2 separate regions of the Homo sapiens genome follow, and region 2 is linked to region 1. Evidence: fine-mapped expression QTL. Tissue or cell type: whole blood. Region 1 holds a variant in brackets; the other region holds the start of a gene. All regions are shown on one strand. Distances are between the middles of the regions.

The links.
Region 2: FCHSD1 starts here. The variant in region 1 is fine-mapped to the expression of FCHSD1 in whole blood (INTERVAL, PIP above 0.99).

What each region holds. Positions count from the first base shown.
Region 1 is chr5:141,676,044-141,690,947 of GRCh38, reverse strand. ARAP3 (ArfGAP with RhoGAP domain, ankyrin repeat and PH domain 3) reads left to right here and starts at 8,718. Exons shown (of 33, transcript NM_022481.6): 1 at 8,718-8,775; 2 at 10,445-10,985; 3 at 11,126-11,187; 4 at 11,292-11,403. The coding sequence starts at 10,462. RefSeq lists a silencer at 8,669-8,718. The variant G/C (reference allele first, on the strand shown) is at 11,357.
Region 2 is chr5:141,646,965-141,656,150 of GRCh38, reverse strand. It overlaps FCHSD1 (FCH and double SH3 domains 1), which reads left to right and starts at 4,733. Exons shown (of 20, transcript NM_033449.3): 1 at 4,733-4,803; 2 at 5,034-5,131; 3 at 5,747-5,792; 4 at 6,197-6,264; 5 at 6,615-6,756; 6 at 6,843-6,979; 7 at 7,131-7,194; 8 at 8,055-8,183; 9 at 8,631-8,753; 10 at 8,921-9,016. The coding sequence starts at 4,783. ARAP3 (ArfGAP with RhoGAP domain, ankyrin repeat and PH domain 3) reads left to right here. Exons shown (of 33, transcript NM_022481.6): 29 at 52-87; 30 at 219-282; 31 at 393-530; 32 at 751-789; 33 at 1,716-2,749. The coding sequence ends at 2,201. RefSeq lists an enhancer at 6,133-6,711.

The DNA.
Region 1 (14,904 bases):
AATCTCTCTCCCTGTCTACCCTGAATGCCTGCTCAAAAGCCCTTGAACAGAGTAGTCATGCTACCAGAGATGGAGGCTATGTATGAGCCCAACAGCATGGGCTCCCTCTCACCAAGGATGAGCTAGTTCTACCACTTTGATCACTCAACCTGCCTGCAGCCAAGACCAGTGCTGGGCCCTCCCTCAGAAGGCTCTCTTCCTCAGAAGACCAGCCAAGCCTCTGGCTGCAGATCAGTTACACTGACCCTATTCTTTCTACTCTGGAGGGGACAGTAATTCGTTCTTACTGGCAACAGTGCATGCTCCAGATTCAGGCTTGTCTTCCACAGTGTTTTTACCAAAAAAGTACAATAATGTGGTCATCAAGGACTTCTATAGTTTCTGCTCTTACATTTAGGTCTTTGATCCATTTTTGAGTTCATCTTTGTATATGGTGTATGGGATGCCGATCAACAGAGTCATTGGGCTCGCTTGGTTGCTCCTCATCACCTAGAAGCTGCCAGCCTGATGGGACAAGGGGACAGCCTGTTGAATGCTCAGTGAAGACACTGGCAGGAACATGACACCTGTGGGTTGGGGCCCTCAACTCCTTGATGCGGTATTTGTTTTGACCAGTACTATGTTCCTTATACATAGAAATTGCCAGTCCTGGAGTCAAATGTGGAAGTGGACGTGGCCCATCTCATTCACATTTGTAGAATATTTGCTTTCTGTCCCCAAAACTGGTGGCTCTGCCAATTCGAGTTTCTAGTTGCCAGGAAGGGAGAACTTATATGAAAGAACACAGTAGTTTCCACTAAACTGGAAGCTGTGACAGCCACGTGGCCACCTTATGCTCCTCATTCTAGTGGGCTAATAGACAAAGAAGGGCATTAATGTGCTGGCCAGGGCCATTGATCCTGATGGCCATGAGGAACCAGGGCTGTAGATACAATGTGCATAGATGCAATGAAGGCGGGGAGTCTGGCCCCAGCCAGGGGATTCGCTGTGGCATCTCTTGGAACTTCCCACCCGGTAGTAATTGCCAATGGACAACTTCAACAACAATTCTAAAAGGACAGGGCAACAAAGGCATCAGATCTCTTGGGGATGAACGTCTGTATAATCTCATCAGGCAAGTAGCCCAGATCTGCAGAGGGCTAGCGGAGGGTCACGGAAGGAGGGAGAGAATATCAATTATGGACTCAAGACACGCTACAGCAGTGGGACTGTAGCTTGCTTCATTAGCCCTCTCCTCTTTATCTTCCTTAAGACCACATCTGGCATTTTCTGGAAGGGGACTTGATTCCAGTGGACTGTACTTTCCCTCATGAGGAAAGAGTGAGGGCAACTTTGTCCCTGTGGGGGAAAATGCCCTGTAGGGTGGCATAGAAGTCAGGTATAATGGGAGGACTTGAGTGGATCTCAGTGGCATGAGAAATGGGCTGCCCTGAGACATGAACCTTTCTTCTCAAATTCCTTCACTACCTCCTCCTCTACTTTCAGACTTAGATAAAATGCCACACTGTACAGTGTGGAACCTGGTTTCCAAGTGCCACCAAGGGCTGGGTAACAGAACCCAGAAGCATGGGAAGGTGACTCTGTGGGGTGAACCTTGACCCATGGGAGACAGGTCATGGGTGGGAGCTGAGGACTGCTCCAAGGTGGATTTCCTCCTTACCTTCTGGAGAAGTCCCACCCACGTGCCGAGAGAGAGCACCCCTGCTGAGTAGCCAGCAGTGTCTCTGAGGGGCTTGTGTGAAGCAGGGCAGGACAGGAAGGCACCGCACTGTCTCACCTTGCATCCTCCATTTCCTCTCCCTCAGCTCAGGGCTTCCACCTGAATCCTGACCACAGGCTCTGCTTCTCAAAGACCTAAGACAAAGGGATTCCTGAAAGCTGTTTCCCCGTCTGTGTCCCACACTGTGGTCACCACTGGAGCCTGAGTTTAACCAGTCCAGCATCTCTGCTGAAGCCAAAGAAATGGAGACCCCGGGGGACAGGAACCAAGCAACTACTTTCCAGATGGGAGAGAAAGTATAGATGGACATCTGAGCAATGAGGGAGGGGCAGGCATGGTCAAGAAATCGAGTGGGGAGATCAGAGGGTAGGAAGTTAAGTCCCAGTGAAAACTGCCCCCTGTAAATGGGTCTGTGCAGTGAGTTTTCTGGGAGAGAGTGATTAGATCCTAGAAGTGAGAAGGGAGAAAAATATTATCTTTCTCCCAAGGAGTAGACAACTGCATCCATGCAAGGCAGGGAGTGCATTCTCCTGACACCTTCAGGGCTCCATATTCCTGGGTGGGGGCAGTGTCTGACCCACAGATGCTCTGGACAGTGAAAACATCAAGAGTGAGTAAACGGTTGGCTGGGCACGGTGGCTCACACCTGTAATCCCAGCACTTTGGCGGAGGTCACGAGTTCGAGGCCAGCCTGGCCAACATGGTGAAACCCCGTCCTTACTAAAAACACAAAATTAGCAAAACATGGTGGCACATGCCTATAATCCCAACTACTTGGGAGGCTGAGGCAGGAAAATCACTTGAACCTGGGAAGCGGAGGTTGCAATGAACTCAGATAGTGCCACTGCACTCCGGCCTGGACGACAGAGTGAGACTGTCTCAAAAAGTAAATAAATAAAAAATAAATAAATAAATAACCCAGTATCCGGTATTTTGTTACAGCAATGCAAATGGACTAAGATAGCCCCCCCCCCCACCCCCTCTGGTCACTCCCAAAGCCCCAGTTCATAAATACTGCATGCCCAGGGCACAACCCCATATCTGGAGTACAGCCTCACACTCCGATGGAGTTTTGTGTCCAAAAAAGGACTGGCCCAGCAGCAATTTGGTGGTTTGCAGGGAGGTAGGGCAGAGACTGAGCATGTCCAAATATCCCTAATACTCTCCTTGCACCTACCCCTGCTTTCACTCTTCTGTCTTTCTTTAGATGTGTGCAGTGGTGCACCAGAAGCTTTAAACAAAGGTCTGCTAATTCCTGGAGTCATCCTTGTCATTCTCCTGCCTCTAGGCAAAGCCCTATTTCAGCATTTTCAAGGCAGCAGGAAGGGAAGAGGAGATGAGGGACCTGAGCCCCAGCAGTCTACAGTCTGCTTTGCCTGGGATGCATAAATAGGATTGGAAGGGCCCTCGTCTTTGAGAGTTGGGTGCAGGGTGTTTTTCTAGGGAGAGATCCATAACTGTCACCAGAGTCTCAAAAAAGTTTAAGATTTGCCTGTGCTGTCCAATATTGGCAGCCAGTGGTTGTTTAAATTTAAATTAATTACAATTAAATTAAATTAAATATTCAGCTCTTCTGGCTCACCAACCTCATTTCAACCTCTCAATGGCCACATGTGGCTACCGGCTGCCATACTGGACAGCACAAATAGAGAACACGGTCCATCATTGCAGGAAATTCTATCAAACAGCACTGCCATTAATTTTATGTATAGAGAAACTGAGACCCAAAGAGAGATGACTTGCCCCAAGCCCTAAGGGGAGTTAGTACTAGCTGTAGTACTAGATACCCTTTATAAAACATTTTGCAGTAAAATTGCATTAAAAATCTTGTAAATACAGCTCATGTCAATAGCCTAGGGTGGAAGGAGACAGGGCCCAGTCATGGGAATGAGGATGCAGGGGAAGGGAGGTGTTCTGTGTTTGTTCCTTCCCTCCCCCTGACCCCAGGGCTGCCCCAGTTCTCCAGGATAAAGAAGGCGTAGAGGCCTGGAACTCCCTCCTCTCCTCAATGATGACTTCATCCTCACAAAAATGTGAGGAGGGAAGTGGGAAGGGGCTCCCTGGAGGGTAGCTCTGGAGTCTAGGGGGAAATGGCACAGCCCTCAGGCCAGAGGAATTAGGGGTAGGGAGGGCTGTGCTGACCCTAACCAGTCTCCATGCAGCCATCTTCCTAAAATTCAAACCTAAATTCATGAGTCTATTGCCCCATGCTTAAACTCTTCCCTGGCTCCCCATGGCTCCTGGCATGGAGACCAAATCTCATACAAGCCCTCCAAGGGCCTGCATGGCCTGGCCCCTGAGATCCTTTCAGTCTCAGCTGGTCCCAAACTCCCTGTCTCTTTGATCTGTCTCCCTTCCTCACCAGGCTGACTCCTACCTCAGGGCCTTTGCACTCGTGGTTCTTCTGCCTAGAACACTCCCTCCCATCCCGCTTAACTCCTACCCATCTTTCTGAGATCTCAACTTAAGCAGAGCTCCCTGCAGAAGCCTCCCAGACCCCCAGGCCAGGTCAGCTGCCTCTGTTATATGCTCTTACAGTGCTTCCCTTCAGAAAATTCATCTTGGTTTGTAATTACACATTTATTTGGGGGTTGTTTGATAAATGTCTCACTTCTTGAGCAGGTCATGTTCCCTAAAGTCTGCTGAGCACGTCATTGCATCTCTAAACCCTTGAGCAGTGGTTGGTCCAGAAAAGATGATTAATAAAAACATGAGAAATAAATGAAAGGATTGAATGGGAGTCTTCCTTCCTGTAAGAAACATGCTCGGCCGGGCGCAGTGGCTCACGCCTGTAATCCCAGCACTTTGGGAGGCCAAGGCAGGCGGATCACCTGAGGTCAGGAGTTCAAGACCAGCCCCGCCAACATGGTGAAACTGCGTCTCTACTAAAAAAAACCACAAAAATTAGCCGGATGTGGTGGTGGGCGCCTGTAATCCCAGCTACTAGGGAGGCTGAGGCAGGAGAATCGCTTGAATCTGGGAGGCGGAGTCTACAGTCATACGAGATCGCACCACTCCACTCCAACCTGGGCGACAGAGGGAGACTCTGTCTCAAAAAAATAAATAAATAAAAAGAAACTTGCACCTTGGCATCCCCCTAGGCCCTGTCCCATCTCATCAGGACCAAATGTGGGTGATGGCTGTGCCTTTTACCATCCAGAGGGTAAGGGCAGGAAAGGAGTGTGACCTGGAGGCCACTGGAGACCATGGAGGCGATCAGGAGTTGCAGGGGTGACAGGAAATTGAGTTACAAAAGTGATGGAACAGACAAGATGACAACTGGGGACCCTGGGGAAAATACAAGGGGTACAATGTGGTCTAATTTGGCAATAGGATGCCACAGGCTGATTGATTAAAATAGGTAACGGGATATGCCAGAGTGATGAAGAAACAGGCAAGCTGGGTGCATACCAGAGTTATCATGGAAGTAACTGGCAAAAATAGGAACAAGGAACAGGAAACACTTTGAGCACTCATTGAATGTCAGGTCCTTTCCACATATTACCCATATATTTCCATAGATTAATCTTTACAACCCTGTCAGGCACTATTCTCTCTCCTTTTTTCAGAAAAGGAAACTGAGGCACACAGGGCAAAATAGAGATGAATAATCTGCTCAGGTCACAGCTGGTAGAGGTGGCATCAGGGCTTTATTTTAGAGACTGTTTTTTTGTTGACCTTTTGTTTTAGTTTTTGTTGTTGTTGGTGGTGGTGTTTTGTTTTGTTTTTAGAGACAGGCCTCACTGTCACCCAAGCTGGAGTGCAGTGGTACGATCTCGGCTCACTGCAATCTCCACCTCCTGGCTCAAGCAATCCTCCCACCTCCACCTCCTGAGTAGCTGGGACTACAGGTGCACACTACCACACTTGGCTAATTTTAAAATTTTTAGTAGAGACGAGGTCTTGCTATGTTGCCCAGGCTGGCCTCAAACTCCTGCTCTCAAACAATCCTCCTGCCTTGGCCTCCCAAAATGCTGGGATTACAGGTGTGAGCCACAGTGCCTAGCCGAGAGACCTTGTTCTTAATTACTGCATACCATCCACTTTTGGTGAACAAAGTGGCCTCCAAAGTGATTGTGGCTTAATAGTCTATCATTTGAGTGGGGAACAAATCGAGACATGGAAGGGGCTATTGAAGAATTCCCTTCCACATCTCCTCATTGCTTCATTCTTCCTCTTCCTCTGCTCACTAGTGTCCCTTTTGTCCTATGTGTTAAGATTAAGATTTAAGATTTACTAATTTCGGCCGGGCATGGTGGCTCACGCCTGTAATCCCAGCACTTTGGGAGGCTGAGGTGGATGGATCACCTGACAGGAGTTTGAGACCAGCCTGGCCAACATGGTGAAACCCTGTCTCTACTAAAATACAAAAATTAGCTGGGTGTAGTGGCAGGCACCTGTAATCCCAGCTACTCGGGAGGCTGAGGCACAAGGCTGAGGCACGAGAATTGCTTGAACTCAGGAAGACACAAGCCAGGGGCCAGAAGCCTCCACCTGCCCCATATCATTGAGCCAAAGAAGGGAAGTGGGGTCTGAGGGAGGAAGCCAGGTCTCCCTCTCTGTGGCTCTGCCCCATCATCTGGCATTGGTGTCCTTAACTTGGAGTCAGTGGACTTGGATGGGAAAAGAATATTACTTTCACTAATCTCTAGCTGAAATTTAACATTTCCTCCAATTATGACAATAGCAACAAACCAGTCATTTTAGCCATAACTATGGCTTTGTCACCAGTAGAAATCACATATATTTTTATATCATATTACAATATTGCAGATCTTTTGAAATACCATTTATGCTCATCACTGCATCAAAGTTATGTGAGGTATCAACCTACCACTAGATCTTATTTAAAGCATTAATAAAGAAGCACATATATTACTATATCACATCGGTTTTATATGTGTATTACAACATAATTGGTTTCCTTTGCAATCCTATATATTTTATTTTATGCATTTTAAAATATTATTCTGAGATGAGACCACATACTTTACCGTATTGCCAAAGGAGAACATGGCACAAAAAGGTTCAGAACTCTTGCATCTAGCCCCTGACCCAAACTCCCCGGCATCCATTCCTCAAAACTCCCTGTGCCCTTTACTGTCTTTTCCTGCTCCCTTATTTTGCTGGGTTAGTCTGAGTCCTTAAAGAAGAAGCTGCCAAGGCAGAATGCAAGGATTTGACTAGGGGAGATGCCTGTGAGAGAGGAAGGGAGCCTGGAGCTAGGAGAGCTGTGAAGGAGAGAGGGAAGGAATAAAGGTTGAGAGGAGCATCCTAAAACACCAGTCAAAGGAAAGTTCAGCAAAGCCATTGGGAAATCTTGATCCAAAGTCAGCTGTCAAAGGAGTCCCCTATCTCCCAGGAATGGGTCTGCCTTAGATCTCTGCTGAGCTCTGTCACTGGCTGGGAGCAGCCCAGTGGGAAGCTGGCCTTAGATTTCAGAGAGAAGCAGCTGGGGCCATTGGTTAATTTCACTCCTCACAGTGTAAGATCTGTGAGGAGCATTCTCACTGCCACCACAGTTGCCCATCTGAAAAAAAGGACATGGTGCAGGGGTCCTGTCCAGGGTGGTAGGTGAGCATGGTAGTTATAGATATAGACTTGGAGGGTTGGCTATTTTCTAGCTGCAGAGTCTTGAGCAAGTTATTTAATGCTCCCTGTCTCCTTATATGTAAAATAGAGGTGATAAAATTTCCTATTTGTAGGGATATTTGTGAGGATTAAAGTTTGCAAAGCAATGTTTACATAGATCCTGGAGCACGGTCAGCTCTCAATAATTGGTAGCCCTTATTATGGCTATTGCAATTATTATTTTATTACTATAATTCTCTTTCTCAAAGGGAAGGCCGGGAAAGTGGGGCTCCAGTAGGTTGAAGATGACAGTCCCTCCCCTAGCTGAGGCAGCTGGAAGAGGTGGGAACCACTTCCTCCCACTCCCCTCTTCTTCCCCTGAGGCAGGGGTCTTCCCCTAGCTACTGACAGTTCCTGTGTCTGCTGACTCACAGCCAACTTCCTCTCATACAAACAGGAAAACACAGCCGGCCAGCGCCCCCGCCACCCCCAACACATACACACACACACACACACACACACACACACACACACACACACACACACACACAAACACCCCCCCCCCACACCCAAACACTGGTCCTGCTCAGAGAGGGAAGTGCCTCCGCCCCTGGGAGACAGGCTCCAGGACCGGGGTTCCGGCAAGATTAGCGAAGGAGAGAAGGGCCATTCCTCTTCAGGCCTCCCCGGCATCCCCCCTGAAATTTTAGGGTGGGAGTTGGGGAGAAGGGGCGGCTTCTCCCATGAATGAAACAGCTGCTTGCTTGGTCACTGAGCTTGCAGGGCGTCCGCCTGTCCCAAAAAGGCAGCCCCAAACCTTGGTTTGGAAGTAGGGATGTGCCTTGCGGACCTTCATCCCTCGAAGGAACCTAGGCCGGGCCCTTGGGGATGGAAGTGGGGAGAAACAGACGGGTACCCCTCTGCTGGGCCTCTGCGCTTGTTGCCCAGGCCAAGTCTCAATTCTGGATGTCCAGCTTCCGTCCCCACACTAAACTGGTTGCCAGGGTCCAGCCACCCTTCCGGGCGTGGGAGAGGTGCCCTGGGGGATTAGGGCTCGACCTTTCCTCCTCCCTTTTGGCAGGACTGGAGGGCATGGGAGCAGCGGAGAGGATGCAAAGCCGTCCCTGGCACTCTCCCTTTCTCAGTTTCTACCTCCGTCCCAGTCTCCGTCCCGGTCTCTGCCTCTTTGTCCCTCTCCCTGAGGTTGTCTTCGTCCCAACGTGTTCTGGTCCTTTCTCGGCCTGCGAGAGGGCAGACTGGGGGCAGACTCGGAGATAAGCGCGGCGGTTGGGCAAGAAGCCCAAACCCTTTGGAGGCCTGCGCTTGCACAAGGAGTGGCCGGGGCCCCGCGGAGGGAACCGGCCGGGCGGGGCGGGGCTGGGCCCGTCGAGGGAGGGCAGAGGGGAGGCGGGGCCGGCGCGGCGGGACCCAGAACCTCGGACGAGCGGCGGGCACCCGCGAGCGGACGGCGGCCGCGTAGTGAGGTGAGGACCCCCGCGCCCCCCGGGTCCCTGCTTCCCAGACTCCTCCCCATCACCTTCTCGAGGGCCTTCGTGGGCTCCCAGGCCCCCTCGGCGCCGGCGGCCCTCCCCATCCCTGCCACGACCCGCCCCTCCCTCCTGCTGCCCGGCCTCTGCCCCATCCCTCCTCGCCCCCTCCCTCGTCGCAGCCTGCGCTGCCCGCCACTGCCCGCCCCGCCCCCGCCACTCCTGTCCCGCGAGCACCTCAGCTCCCAGCCCCGTGCTGTCGAGCCCGGCCTGAGTCACCGGGAAACCGGGCCCTGAGTCAGGGCCCGAGGCTCAGCACGCGGGCCCTGGCTTGGGAATGAGGCCCAGCTGGAGAGAGGCAGAGGGAGGCCAGCAGTGATGCTGGGACGGAGAGGGCGTCCTGGTCACCGACAGAGCACAAGAGTAACAGGGAGAGAGCCTAGGCCGAGGCGGAAGACAGAAACCCAGGCTCAGAGGCAGACAGAGACACAGATACAACTCAAGATCTGGTTAGAATTGTAGACTGAGTCAAGGACAAGCTTAATAACAGAGAGCAAAACAGGGTGGGACAAGGAGAGGGACAAAGAAGAATTGAGAGGTTGAGATGGAATGGGGCAGGGACAGTGACAAGGCAGAGATAAAACTCAGGGGCCACAGAATTAGAGACAGGTCTATGAAATAGACCAGGGTCAGGGTCGGGGTCAGGCTGGTGGAAGGGGGACAGAGCACAGAGACCTGAGCCCAAGGGAATGAGCAGGGAAAAGGCAAGCTCAGAAAAGGAAGGCTTGGAGAAAGCAGAGGTGGGGGGATGGCATTTCACACTGCCAAATCGCTACAGGGCATGTGCACACACAGGTGAACAGCATGTGAACATGCTGCCGGTGGGCAGAGAGTCCAGAAGCCTCTGGAGTACCCCTGACCAGAGGTCAGGCCTCATCTCTCTGGCATCCCCATCCTTATTCTTCAATTAGCCTCCACCCAGGGCCGGGACCCCACACATTAGGACTGGTTAGGGCTCTCCCGGCAGCCTGACCAAAGCAGGCAGGATGTGGAGGCGGCCAGGGCTGGAGGGACAGGAAGGAAGTCTGAGCAGAGACAATAGGTGGAAGGGGAGGAGGGACTGGGAACAACCAGGATTAGGACGGCAGGCCTGCATACATCGGCTCTGGAAACAAGAGGGAGGGGGCGTCTGCACCTCCTTCCTCCTATCTAGGCTGCCCCTCTCCCTACCTTACTCCAGAGCTGATTGGCCACATCATTGGCCCCTCCTCTGCATCTCCCTATCCCACTCTGACCCACAGCATTCTAGCATCTTGTCCCATGCTTACTCAGTTGGATGTGCAGTCAGGCAGGAGCAGAGCTTTGACCCAGACCCAGGGTGGGCAGGAACTGAGGGGCCAACTCTAGCACTGACTTACTGTGAACCTGGGGCAAGCCCCTTCCCCTCTCTGGGCCTCAGTTTCCTTAACTTCAAATGAAGTCCCTTCCCTAAGTAGAGAGCCATTGCTGTTGTTCTGGGATGGCTCTGCTTCCAGATCGCAGGCCTTTCAGCATCTTTCTTTGGAGGAAGATTGGAGGCTGGTGCTCACTGTCCAGGCCTCAGACTCTGGGGCAGAGAGGGGGATTCTCAGCCTGAGCCCTCCCTTCACCCTGCCCCTCCCCCCAGCAATGGCCTGAGCCCCCATGGCTGCCCCTCAGGACCTGGACATCGCTGTGTGGCTGGCCACGGTGCACCTGGAGCAGTATGCAGACACGTTCCGACGGCATGGCCTGGCTACAGCAGGTGCAGCCCGGGGCCTGGGCCACGAGGAGTTGAAGCAGTTGGGCATCAGCGCCACAGGGCACCGGAAACGCATTCTACGCCTGCTACAGACAGGCACCGAAGAGGGCTCCCTGGATCCCAAATCAGATAGTGCCATGGAACCATCCCCCAGCCCAGCCCCGCAAGCCCAGCCCCCTAAGCCCGTGCCGAAGCCCAGGACCGTGTTTGGTGGACTCAGTGGCCCTGCCACCACTCAGAGACCTGGGCTGAGCCCAGCCCTCGGGGGACCAGGAGTGTCCAGGAGCCCAGAGCCCAGCCCAAGGCCTCCTCCTCTCCCCACTTCCTCCTCTGAGCAGTCTTCAGCCCTAAATACTGTGGAGATGATGCCTAATTCCATCTACTTCGGCCTGGACTCAAGAGGCAGGGCACAGGCAGCTCAGGACAAGTGAGTGGAGTTGGCTCCCTAGGGACTGATGCTGGGAGGAGTGGGGAGGAGAGCATGAGGGGGACGGAGGCGGGGAGCAGGGCATGAAGGCTTGTTCTTCCTCCTCTCTCCTTAAGTAACCAATAGACCTTTCCCTTCAGGGCCCCAGACAGCTCCCAAATCTCTGCCCCCACCCCTGCCCTCAGGCCCACAACAGGCACAGGTAACTGGGTTATCACGGGTTGGGGGAGAGGGATAGTGCCGGCAGGACCTCATACACTCCCAGCGATCTCCTCTTCCTTGTGCGTTCCCCTCTCCTCCTGCCAGTGCACATCATGGATCCTGGTTGCCTGTACTATGGTGTCCAACCTGTGGGGACTCCAGGAGCCCCC[G/C]ACAGAAGAGAGAGCAGAGGTGTTTGTCAGGGCAGGGCTGAACACAGGTGAGTACTAAATAGGGAAGTGGTGGGAGGGAGGAGCAGGTGAGTCGGTGGCGGCCATGTATCCAGTTATTCAACAAATGTGCATTGAGTATTCACCAGCCAGGCACTCAAGATACAGGATGAGTATCACAGACCTAGTGCCACCCTCAGGCAGCTTGTGACTCAGTGGGACAGACAGGGAATAAAACAAGTAGACAAACCAATGGTCATATAATGGAAAATTGGGAGAAGTGCTTTTCTTTCTTTCTTTCTTTTTGAGACGGAGTCTTGCCTTGTTGCCCAGATTGGAGTGCAGTGGCACAATCTCGGCTCACTGCAACCTCCCCCTCCTGGGTTCAAGCGATTCTCCTGTCTCAGGCTCCCGAGTAGCTGGGATTACAGGTGCGTGCCACCATGCCCGGCTAATTTTTATATTTTTAGTAGAGATGGGGTTTCGCCATGTTGGCCAGGCTGGTCTCGAACTCCTGACCTCAGGTGATCCTACCTCCTTGGCCTCCCAAAGTGCTGGGATTACAGGCATGAGCCACTGTGCCCAACCAGGAGAAGTGCTTTTCATTTTTTCATTCAACAAATATTTATTGAGCAACTATCATGCACCGGATGTAGATGCTTGGGATAGATCAGCGTACACAGAAATCCCTGCCCTTGTGGGGAGATAGTCTATTAACAATAAACATAATACATTAAATACTATAGAACGTTAAAAGGTATTAAGTGCCATGGAAAAAATAGAGCAGAGTAAGAGGGCTGGGGGGTTGGCCGGGCATGGTGGCTCACACCTGTAATCCCAGCACTTTGGGAGGCTGAGGCAGACGGATCACCTGAGGTCAGGAGTTTGAGACCAGCCTGGCCAACAGGATGAAACTCCGTCTCTACTAAAAATACAAAAATTAGCCAGGTGCGGTGGTGGACGCCTATAATCCCAGCTAGTTAGGAGGCTGAGGAAGGAGAATTGCTTGAACCGGAGAGGTGGAGGTAGCAGTGACTAAGAAAAAAAAAAAGAGGGCTTGGGGGCAAAATGGGTGGACTGCAATTTTTCATTTACAGTTAGCGGAGCGTTAAGAAGATGACATTTGATCAAAAACTTGAAGGAGGTGAAGGAGTTAGCCATGAAGATAACTGGGGAAGAGTGCCCCGGTAGGGCAAGTGATTGGAACAGAGGCCTCAAGGCGGGTGTGTGCCCAAAGGGATCCAGGAGCAGTGAGGAGGCCAGGCCATCTTGGCTGGGGCAGGTGAGCCACGGTGGGAGGAATGGCAGGAGATGAAGTCAGAGAGGTAAAAGAGGCCAGATAAGGGTCAGGCACAGTGGCTCATGCCTGTAATCCCAGCACTTTGGGAGGCCAAGGTTGGCGGACCACCTGAGTTCAGGAGTTTGAGAGCAGCCTAGTCAACATGGTGAAACCTCGTGTCTACTAAAAATACAAAAAAAATATAGCCGGGCGTGGTGGTGGGCGCCTGTAGTCCCAGCTACTCAGGAGGCTGAGGCAGAGAATGGCGTGAACCCGGGAGGCGGAGCTTGCAGTGAGCAAAGGTTGTGCCGCTGCACTCCAGCCTGGGCAACAAAGCAGGACTCCGTCTCAAAAAAAAAAAAAAATAGCTGGGGGTGGTGGCGCACACCTGTAGTCCCAGCTACTAGGGAGGCTGAGGCAGGAGAATCACTTGAACCCGGGAGGCGGAGGTTGCAGCAAGTCAAGATCATGCCACTGCCCTCCATCCTGGACAACCGAGTGAGACCCTGTCTCAAAACAAAAACAAAAACAAAAAAAACAAAAACAAAAAACAAAACAAAACCAAAAAAACAAAAACAAGGGGCCAGATAAGGGACTTTGGCTTTTACTCTAAGTGAAATGGGAAGCCATTGAGGGGTTTTGACTTTATAAAGGGATCCCCCTGGTTGCTATGTTGGGAGTGGTCTGTAGGGGGCCAAAGGAGAAGCAGAGAGACCAGTGGGGAGGTTTTTGTAGTAATGTAGGTGAGAGACCTCAGAGTGTAGTGATAGTAGTGGAGATGATGAGAAGTGGCTTTATTTTGAAGGCAAACTGTCAGATTAACTTGGGATGTGAGAAAAAAAGAGCAGTCAAGAATGACTTTGAGGGCTTCCATCTGAGCTGGTGCTGACCAGTATGGTAGCCATTAGCCACATGTGACTACTGGGCCTATGAAATGCGGCTAGTATCCTTTGAGATGCACAATAAATGTAAAACACCTGCTAGATTTCAAAGACTTAATATGAGAAAAAGCAATACTGGATGAATATAACAAATATAAACATAAATTATCTTATGTTTATATTTTTATGTTGATTACAGAATTTTTATGTAGTAAAAAATAGTAATTTTTATGTTGATTACATACTAAAATGTTAATGTTTAGGATATATTGGGTTAAATAAAATATATTATTAAAATTAATTTCACCTGTTTCTTTTAATTTTTTTAAACGTGGCTACTGAAAAGTTTAAAATTACATACTTGGTTCGCATTAACTTCTGCTGGATAGCACTGTCCTGAGCACCTGAAAGTTCCTGGAGCCGCCACGGTCTGAGATGGGGAAGACTGTGTTCAGGCAGCTGGGAGGAGAGGGTAGATTAGGAGTGCAGTTCTGGATGTGTTGAATTTGAGGTGTAAGTTATGCCTCCAAGAAGAGGTGAAAATAGACCACTGGGTAGACGAGCTTAGAGTCTAGAGAGAGGTCGGAGCTGGAGACCTAAACTTGAGAGTTGTCAGCACTTAGATGGGTGCATAGAGCTGTGAGTGAGTGCAGATAGAGAAGAGGACCAAGATCAAAGCCCTTGTGCACTCCCATATCTAGAGGTTTGGGAGAAGCGGAAGAATCTGCAAAACGGACAGAAGAGAAATAGCAAAGTAGAAGGCCAGGAGAATGTGATGTCATAGGAGCAAAGTGAGGAAAATGTAGAAGAAGAAGGGAGAGGCCAGCTGTGTCCTACGCTGCTGAGGGGTCTGCTGCTGAGTATGATAGGACTTAGAATTCACCCTTGGAATTGGAGGTCACTGGGGATCTTGACAAGTACAGTCTCAGAGTGATGGGGTGAAAGCTCGATGAGAGTGGGTTTTAAGGGAGAATAGAAAAGTACAGACAGTGTCTTTTGAGGAATTTTTCTGCAAAGAAGAGCAGAGAGTTGGAACTATTGTTGCTAGAGGAAGCTGAGTCAAGAAAAGAGTTTTTTTGTTGTTTTTGAGACGGAGTCTTGCTCTGTCACCCAAGCTGGAGTGCAGTGGTGTGATCTCGGCTCATTGCAACCTCTGCCTCCTGGGTTCAAGTGATTCTCCTGCCTCAGCCTCCCAAGTAGCTGGGACCACAGGTGCGCTTCACCACACCCAGCTAATTTTTGTACTTTTAGTAGAGACGGGGTTTCACCATGTTGGCCAGGATGGTCTCGACCTCTTGACCTCGTGATCCGCCTGCCAAAGTGCTGGGATTACAGGCGTGAGCCACCGTACCTGTCCAACAAGAGTTTTTTATTGGATGCAATGTTATATA
Region 2 (9,186 bases), 32 kb after region 1:
TTCACCCCCCTGCCCTTTCTGACTGCCCCATCACTGTTCTTTGTCTCCCAGGTGGGGCTTCACATTGATACTAGAGAAGATGCACCTGTGAGTACCTCCTGCCCTGGCTTCTCCTCTGGCCCACCTCTGCACCCTGTCTTTTCTCTTCCCTCTTTGTATGCTCCATTCCTATAGCTGTGACCCTCTCTCTCCCTCTGATTCCATTCTGATCACCCCAGCTACTTGTCCTGCACTGACGAGGATGAAATGTGGGATTGGACCACCAGCATCCTTAAAGCCCAGGTGAGGGGAAAGAAAAGGCTGAGGGCTGGGTCTGTGGTCCCCCTGGGGCCCAGCTGTCCTCCTCAGTGCCTTTCATGCCCACTGATGCCAACCCCTCACGCTCCCACCAGCACGATGACCAGCAGCCAGTGGTCTTACGACGCCATTCCTCCTCTGACCTTGCCCGTCAGAAGTTTGGCACTATGCCTTTGCTGCCTATCCGTGGGGATGACAGTGGAGCCACCCTCCTCTCTGCCAATCAGACCCTGGTAAGGCACCCCACCCTGCCCCAACCCGATTCCTGTCGTGTAGCCCTTGTCACATTGCAGTAGGCAGTGGTGTGCCTGCTAGCCTGGTGCCACCCTATGCTCACTGTCCCCCTCCCTTCTGCCTTCTTCACCCCCATTCCCCACCCCTGTCTCCTGTTGCTAGTCCTCACTGTGTCTTTATGTCTTTCCTTCCCCTTGTCCCCACCCCACCTGTGTCCAGCGGCGACTACACAACCGGAGGACCCTGTCCATGTTCTTTGTGAGTATTGTGCCTGCTCCAGCGGTGTGCCTGTCAACCCTGTATTCCTCTGTGCTGCCTGAGCCCCGGGTGTGCTGTTTTCCTCATGTAGGCCATCAGGGGGTGTGTGTGTGTGTGTGTGTGTGTGTGTGTGTGTAGGCCATCAGGGTGTGTGTGTGTGTGTGTGTGTGTGTGTGTGTAGGCCATCAGGGTGTGTGTGTGTGTGAGAGAGAGAGAGGGAGAGCGAGGAAAAGGGAGAGGGAGAGGGACAGGACAGAGAGAGAGAGGAGGCCAGAAAGAATGAGGAAAATGAGGGATGTAAGATGCAGTAATAAAAGGAGAAAGGTCGGGCACAGTGGCTCATGCCTGTAATCCCAGCACTTTGGGAGGCTGAGGTGGGTGGATCCCCTGAGGTCAGGAGTTCAAGACCAGTCTAATCGACATGGTGAAATCCCGTCTCTACTAAAAATACAAAATTAGCTAGGTGTGGTGGTGCATGCCTGTGATCCCAGCTACTTGGGAGGCTGAGGCAGGAGAATCACTTGAACCTGGGAGGCGGAGGTTGCAGTGAGCCAAGATCGCACCACTGCACTCCAGCCTAGGCAACAAGAGTAAAACTCTGTCTCAAAAAAAAAAAAAAAGGAAAAAGTTGTCACAGAATCTGTGAAATAGAAGGAAAGTGATGAAGTGAATGCATTTTGGAGTTAGACAGACCTGGGTTCAAACCCCAGCTCTACCATTCACTCATTATGTGATGCTGGGCAACTTACTTAACCCCTTTGCATTCAGTTGACTCAGTGTAACCCACTGCACAGGGTTGTTCCAGAATCATACATGCCAAGTATTTTACAGCATCTGGCCCAGAGGAAGAGCTCAGTAAATGTTAGTGATTCATAATCTGGTAACTTTAACTATGTGCCCACTCCTGCCATTCCATTCCCATCCAGCCAATGAAGTCATCCCAGGGGTCTGTGGAGGAGCAAGAGGAGCTGGAGGAGCCTGTGTACGAGGAGCCAGTGTATGAGGAAGTAGGGGCCTTCCCTGAGTTGATCCAGGACACTTCTACCTCCTTCTCCACCACACGGGAGTGGACAGTGAAGCCAGAGAACCCCCTCACCAGCCAGAAGTCATTGGATCAACCCTTTCTCTCCAAGTCAAGCACCCTTGGCCAGGAGGAGAGGCCACCTGAGCCCCCTCCAGGCCCCCCTTCAAAGAGCAGTCCCCAGGCACGGGGGTCCCTAGAGGAACAGCTGCTCCAGGAGCTCAGCAGCCTCATCCTGAGGAAAGGAGAGACCACTGCAGGCCTGGGAAGTCCTTCCCAGCCATCCAGCCCCCAATCCCCCAGCCCCACTGGCCTTCCAACACAGACACCTGGCTTCCCCACCCAACCCCCATGCACTTCCAGTCCACCCTCCAGCCAGCCCCTCACATGACCCTAGGACCAGCAGTCTGAGAGGGTAGGTACCAGAAGACCCAGAAACTCTTATCGTGGCACTGTTGCAGCTTCCTCTGCCCTGGCTGGAAAGACTCCAGAATCCAGTGTGGTGCTGTGGAAGGAGCACTGGACTAAAGGCTTCAGTGGCTGCGTGTCCCAGGACAGGTCATGGCCCCTCTCTGGGCCCAGCCCATTTATCTATACCATGAGGTAACTGAAGTAAGGAGAGCAGTGAATGTCAAACTGTGTTTCTTAGAGCCATAAGCCCCACATATTATCCCTGAACAAGGGCAGCTCCTGCTTTATATATTTGATACGTAGGGGTTCCATGAGAGATTTTGGGTTTTAAAGGAATGGTTTTACTGCATTAAAGAAAAAAAATGCTTTGGAAACCAGAGGCCTGGGTGATGTTAAAGTCTATCCTGTCCCACTTCCTACATTCTGGGACTACCGTGAAGCCTGGAGTAGGGAGAGCGAGTTTGGGAGCTGGGACTCGGGGAGTCAAAAATAGATGAGTAATTGTCAATAAACCTGGGAACCAAAAGACTACCATTCTCATTCATTCATTCAACAAATATGTATTGTGCACCTAATTGGTGCCAGGTCTGGGGATATAGCATGAACAAAACAAACAGGGCCCCTGCTCTTATGAATCCTCCGTTGTGGAGGGGAACAGAAAATAGCAAATAAACACATAAACCAGTACTTGAACAAGTGAGTTTAGTGCTGTGAAGAAACTGAACCAAAGTGATGAGCTTGAAGAGTGATTGTGGAGGCCAGGCGCAGTGGCTCACACCTGTAATCCCAGCACTTTGGGAGGCTGAGGGGGATGGATTACCTGAGGTCAGGAGTTTGAGACCATCCTGGCAAAGATGGTGAAACCCTGTCTCTACTAAAAATACAAAATTAGCTGGTTGTGGTGGCACGTGCTTGTAATCCCAGCTACTCGGGAGGCTGAAGCAGAAGAATCACTTGAACCTGGTAGGTGGAGGTTGCAGTGAGCCGAGATTGCACCATTGCACTCCAGCCTGGCAACAGAGCAAGACTCCATCTCAAAAAAAAAAGAGTGATTGTGGAGATGGTCTTTGGATGGGTGGATGGGGAAGGCATCTGTGAAGAGTTGCAAAGTAAGGGAAAGAAGCTGTTGGAGGCGACAGATGGAACGCTGGAAGGAGGAGATTCTGGAGAAAGAAAGCAGGCATGAAGAACTCTGCATTGGAAGGGACTTGGTCTACTGAGGGAACAGCAAAGAGGCTGGAGCACAGTGAGCAGACAGTGGGAGGAGAGTACAGGCTGAAGTAAGAAAGACCAGCAGGGTCTTCCATGCGTAGCCTTGAAGGCCATGGATTCTATTTGGATTTTATTCTGAAGCAAGTGCATTTTAAGCAAGTAAATTATGAGATCTTATTTCCCTTTAAAAAAGAAAAAAAAGGTTGATCACTCTGAGTGCTGTGTGAACAGTGGGTTGGGGTGAGGGCAGTGTGGAAGCAAGGAGATCAGATATTAGACCAGAAGTCTAATAATGGGGGCTTGGACTAGGATGGTGGTCTTGGAAATTGAGGGAAGTGGATCAAGAGGTTTTTGTTTGTTTATTGTTGTTTGAAATAGAACCTGTAGGACTTACTGATGGATAGAATGTAGGGGTAGGAGAAGGCACATTGACTCTGGGTTTCTGACTTAACTGACTGGAGGAAATGCGGTGCCATTTAAAACGTTACGGGGGGAGGATCAGGTTGAAGGAGGTTTAAAAGCTTTAAAAGTTGAGGTTCCTATTAGATATACTAGCAGAGGTGTCAGTGGGGAGTTGGAATGTGAATCTGGAGTTTTGAGACATGTCAGGGGTACTGGGACAGGTGCCTGAGCCAAAGAAGCTTAGGTGAGGAGGATGAGGAATTGGGGAGAGGCTCCTCAGGAAGCAGTGCTAGGGCTGGAAGATCCTAAAGGTGGCAGGGGCTTCCTGCGCATCTCCCAGCTCTCGCCGACTCACTGGTATCGTTTAGTTTTCAGTGGGGCCAAGTCTTTTTCCCTTTGGGCCTGGTTCCTTCCTGGATCCAGGCATCTTTCTCACCCCGCTCACGCTGGCTTTTCCAGTTAAGCGGGAATTAGGAAAAGGTCTGGGACCAGCCCTCTCTTCGTCAGATGCATCTTTGCTCAGGTGCCCAGTGACTCAGTTTCCCTGGTCACACACTGAATTCCTCTCCATTCCTCATCATTAGCTCGGGGACTGGGGATCTACATATGCAAATGAATAATTATCAATAATTACAGGCTGAATCAGTGGTTACACTACAAATAGAACTTAGGCGTCTTGACTCAGATGCCTGGGGTTCTTCCCACCGCCCAGCGGACGCTGCGTCCGCCCCGCCCGCCCCGCCACCCGGACCCTGCCGGCGTATTCGCAGCAGTAACAGGTTTAGTTTCTCGGTGGCCCCCTCTCGCTTCCGCGCCCTGCGACGTCGCCGGACAAGTCGTGGGCGGGCAGAGGGCGGGGCCTGACCTGGCCTGGGGCGGGGCTCCATAGTGGGCGGGGCTTCCTCCAGTTCCGGAGTCCAGTGGCTGACCGCCTTGCTGGAGCGGAGATGCAGCCGCCGCCCCGAAAAGTGAGCTTGGCCCTGAATGGGGACTCCTGGCGGGCTGGGGGAACGGAGGGAGCTAAGGGGGCATCCGACTTGTGGTAGGAGACGGGAAGTCGGAAGGGGTCAGACCCCAAACCAGAAGTAACAGAGGAAAGAGCTCAGCACCCCCCCGGCCCCGCCCCCTCACCGCTCCCTGCGCGGAGTGTTTTTTAGGTCCTTGCGCTGGGGTCTTCATCCTCTCTTTGCCCCCACAGGTGAAGCCGGCCCAGGAGGTGAAGCTTCGCTTCCTGGAACAGCTGAGCATCCTTCAGACCTGGCAGCAGAGGGAGGCGGATCTGCTGGAGGACATCAGGTAGCTCCCCCAACCCCCTTCATTTACACTCACCTTCGTCGTTGTGCGCCACTTCTCCCCAATATACATGTGCTGGGGTGGAGGAACAGGGGCCAAGAGCTCCCCAGCCGACCCATCCACAGCCCTCACCCTAGGCCTGGCCTCTCCAGATACTGGATAGGAATGCTCCCCCACCTAACCCCTCCCAACCCCCTCCCACCCACATAAACACACAGGAACCCTCCCTCAAAGCCCTTGACTCCACACCACTGCCCCCAACCCCACAATCAACCTTAGGGCAGAATCCCTCTCCCTCTTCCAGACCTGTTGGAAGGCTGGCAGACATCGTACCCAGGCCCCCATCAGTCTTCACCTCTAAGCCTACAGATGAACCTCTGGGGTGGGGAGGATCCTGCTGGGGCCCGGGGCAGTAAGGTGAGGGTTTCCTGTGTTGCAGCTGCCCGAGGTGATCTCAAGGACTCCCATCAGTCCCATTCCCTCTGGGTGTAGTTACACTCTAGGAACCTGGCTCCCCCCAACCGCTCCCTCCTGCCCAGAGTAGAGGACTGAGGATGGGAGAACAGGACCAAACATAACCTTATCCCCCACCTCACCCCCGACCTGCAATCTCCGCAGATCCTACAGCAAGCAGAGGGCAGCCATTGAACGGGAGTATGGGCAGGTATGGGACTTTTCTCTGGACCTTACCTCTTGTTCCAGCCTCTCTTATATCACCAGTAATGTCTGTCCATACCTATCCCTATTGTGGTCAAGAGCAGATGCCTAGAGTCAAGCAGACTGGTGTCAGATCCCTGCTGTGTAATTATAGCCATGTGACCTTGGACAAGTTACTTAACCTTTCTTGACCTCAGTTTCTTTCTCTGTGAAATGGGAATAATAATAATACCTTACCTTCATGTAGGGTTGTTGTAAGGATTAAACAAATTAATGACTATAAGGCATTTAGCAAAGCAAGTGGCACATAATGTACCCAAAGAATGGTATGATTATACTCTGATGTCATATTCTGCCAGTTGGGGTGGGTCTTTGAAAGGGAACTTGGTTCTGTGATGGCTTTTTCACCAGGCACTCCAGAAACTGGCTGGCCCATTCCTGAAGAGGGAAGGGCACCGGAGCGGTGAGATGGACAGCAGGTGGGCCCTATGGAGGGGGAGGGCCACAGAGGCCAAAAAGTGATGGGGAGCTCAGCCCCAGGAACCTGTGGGGATGAAGGCCTAGCAAGTGGGGAAGGCACGTGAGCTGTAGGTAGAGCTGACACAGCAGCAGCAGAGGAGCTGACCCAGCAAGGACACTGTGGGTGGGGTGGAGGGCAGGAGTGAGGCTTGTGGCTGAGCTAATGGGCTGATCGATTGATGGGCTCCCAGACAAGGGAGGATGGGAAAGCACTCTGTCTCCCATGGTGTTGGTCAGGGGGCAGGGGGTGGGGGTGGTCTCATGAAGCTGTGGAGTGCTCTCCTCCTCAACACAGACCTTCTCTGGGGAGGGGCAGGACAGTGTTCGGTGCCTGGCGCTGCCTGCTGGATGCCACCGTGGCTGGGGGCCAAACCCGACTCCAGGCGTCTGACCGATACCGTGACCTAGCAGGGGGTACAGGGCGGAGCGCCAAGGAGCAGGTGCTTAGGAAGGTATGGCTCAGAGGTTGGGGTGAAGGAAGAGCTGGCTTGGGACCAAAGGTGGTCTAGGTAAGGACTTTGTGTATGCATCCCAATAGGGAACAGAGAACCTCCAGAGGGCGCAGGCTGAGGTGCTGCAGTCTGTCCGGGAGCTGAGCCGAAGTCGGAAGCTGTATGGGCAGCGGGAACGTGTGTGGGCCTTGGCACAGGAGAAGGCGGCTGATGTCCAGGCCAGGTGGGGTCATGGAGAGTGAGGAAGCCCAAGGTTGGGGAACAGGGAGGTGGGGCTGTCTAGGGGTGGAGCCAAGTCACCAAAGCTGGGCCTGACTCTGATCTCATATTCTCCCACTTGGGGTGGGCCTGACTCCTTTCTCTCATCTGCACAGGCTAAACCGAAGTGACCATGGGATCTTCCACTCTCGGACCAGTCTCCAGAAACTGAGCACCAAGGTTCGAGGGATGAGGGCATGAGTGGGGGCAGGGAAGAGGGAGGCAGAGTAGTCTAGTGGTTTGGAACATAGGTGCATATGTATGAAAGACTGGGTTGAATCCAGGCTCTCCTACTTCCTGGGTGGGTAACCTTGGTTAATTTACTTGATCTCTGTGAGCCTTATTTTCTTCTATAAAATGGAGAGAATACCCTTCTTTTTCAGTCCTTTAATATGCATTTATTGAGGATCTGTATATAATAGGCACTGTTCTAGACATTATGGATACAGTGGAGAACACTACCAATGGAGTTCCTGCCCTCACAGTCTGGTTAAGAGAGACAGACAGCAAATAAATACTTAGATTAAGATGAAAATAAAACAAGGTACTATGATAAAGAATAACAAGGGGGTAGAATTTAGAGGGAGGCCTCTCTGAATAGGTGGCCTAACTGTCAAGAAGGAGCTGGCCTTGCAAAGATCTAGGGGAAGAACATTGCAGAGAGAAGAAATGGTGAGTGCAAAGGGTCTGAGGTGGGAATAACTTTGTAGGCTCGAGGAACTGAGAGAGGGCCAGTATGGCTGGAGTACTGTGAGCAAGGGAACAAGCGCTTGAAAAGAGGTCAGAGAGATTGCGGGGGCCAGCTCATATTGAACGTGGTGGACCATGGTAAGGAACAGTGGATTTTATTTTAAATGCGTGCAGAAGGCACTAGAAGATTTTGAGCAGGAGTTGTGTGTATGCAACATTTTTAGTGTAGTGCCAGGCACATAGTAAGCACTCAATAATGTGAGAATCCATTCTGGATCTGGCTTCTCAATTGGTCTTGGAAGGACTCTGGGGGTCTAGGGCTTCCTATTGACATCAGTTTACCCTCCTAGCTGTCCGCCCAGTCAGCCCAGTACTCCCAGCAGCTGCAAGCAGCCCGCAATGAGTACCTGCTTAACTTGGTGGCTACCAATGCCCACCTCGACCATTACTACCAGGAGGAACTGCCAGCTCTGCTCAAGGCCAGTTTTAACCCAGACACCCCTATCCCTCAGCAGGGAGGGAAAGGAGGACCTCCCCCTGCTTCTTGATCCCCATGACAGTGGGTGGTGCAGGGGATCTTGTCTGTTTAGAGTGAGTAGATGATACATACATGCACTCTGGTTCTGCTCCTAGCTGGCTGCATGGCATTGTACAGTACACTTAAACTCTTCCGAACCCCAGATTCCTCATCAGGGATAACCCTTTCTCTGCCTATCTTATAGCACTAGTGGGGCTCAAAGGAGAGAATGGATGTGAACGTGTTTTAAACTTCTAAGTGCTCTGCACACGAGGGCCTTTCTCATGAAGAATGTCTTCTTCTCTCCTTCCTATACCTCATGCCCATCACCTGTCAAATCTGGAACGAGCCTATTTTACAGTAGAGGTCTGGGGGAAGGGTGGTGTCAGTATCTTGGGGTTCTCTCTAGGCCCTGGTCAGTGAGCTGTCAGAGCACTTGAGGGACCCCCTGACCTCCCTGAGCCACACTGAGCTGGAAGCCGCAGAGGTCATCCTGGAGCATGCCCACCGCGGGGAGCAGACAACCTCCCAGGTGAGGGCTGTGGCCTCTAAGAGCTTCCCCGGGGATCCTTTTTACCCTTCCCTCCCAATGCAGCCCTCTTTGCTTCACACATTGTCCTTTTTCTTCCAAGAAGTGCTAGGGACAGGGTTGGAGAGTGAGTCAGTGAATGAGTGACTTTGACTTTTCCCAACCCCTAGGTAAGCTGGGAGCAAGACCTGAAGCTGTTTCTTCAGGAGCCTGGTGTATTTTCCCCCACCCCACCTCAGCAGTTTCAGCCAGCAGGGACTGATCAGGTGAGATCTTCCTGCTTGTTGGAACCAGGCCACATATAAAGGCGATTATGATTTAGGCCTCCTCCATTATCTTTGTTTTGTGTTAACTTAGTGAGTGTACACCGTGGAGAGGGGGTTTCAGAACTCCAGCTCACCTCCCTCCCAACAGGACACACACAAAAAAACACACC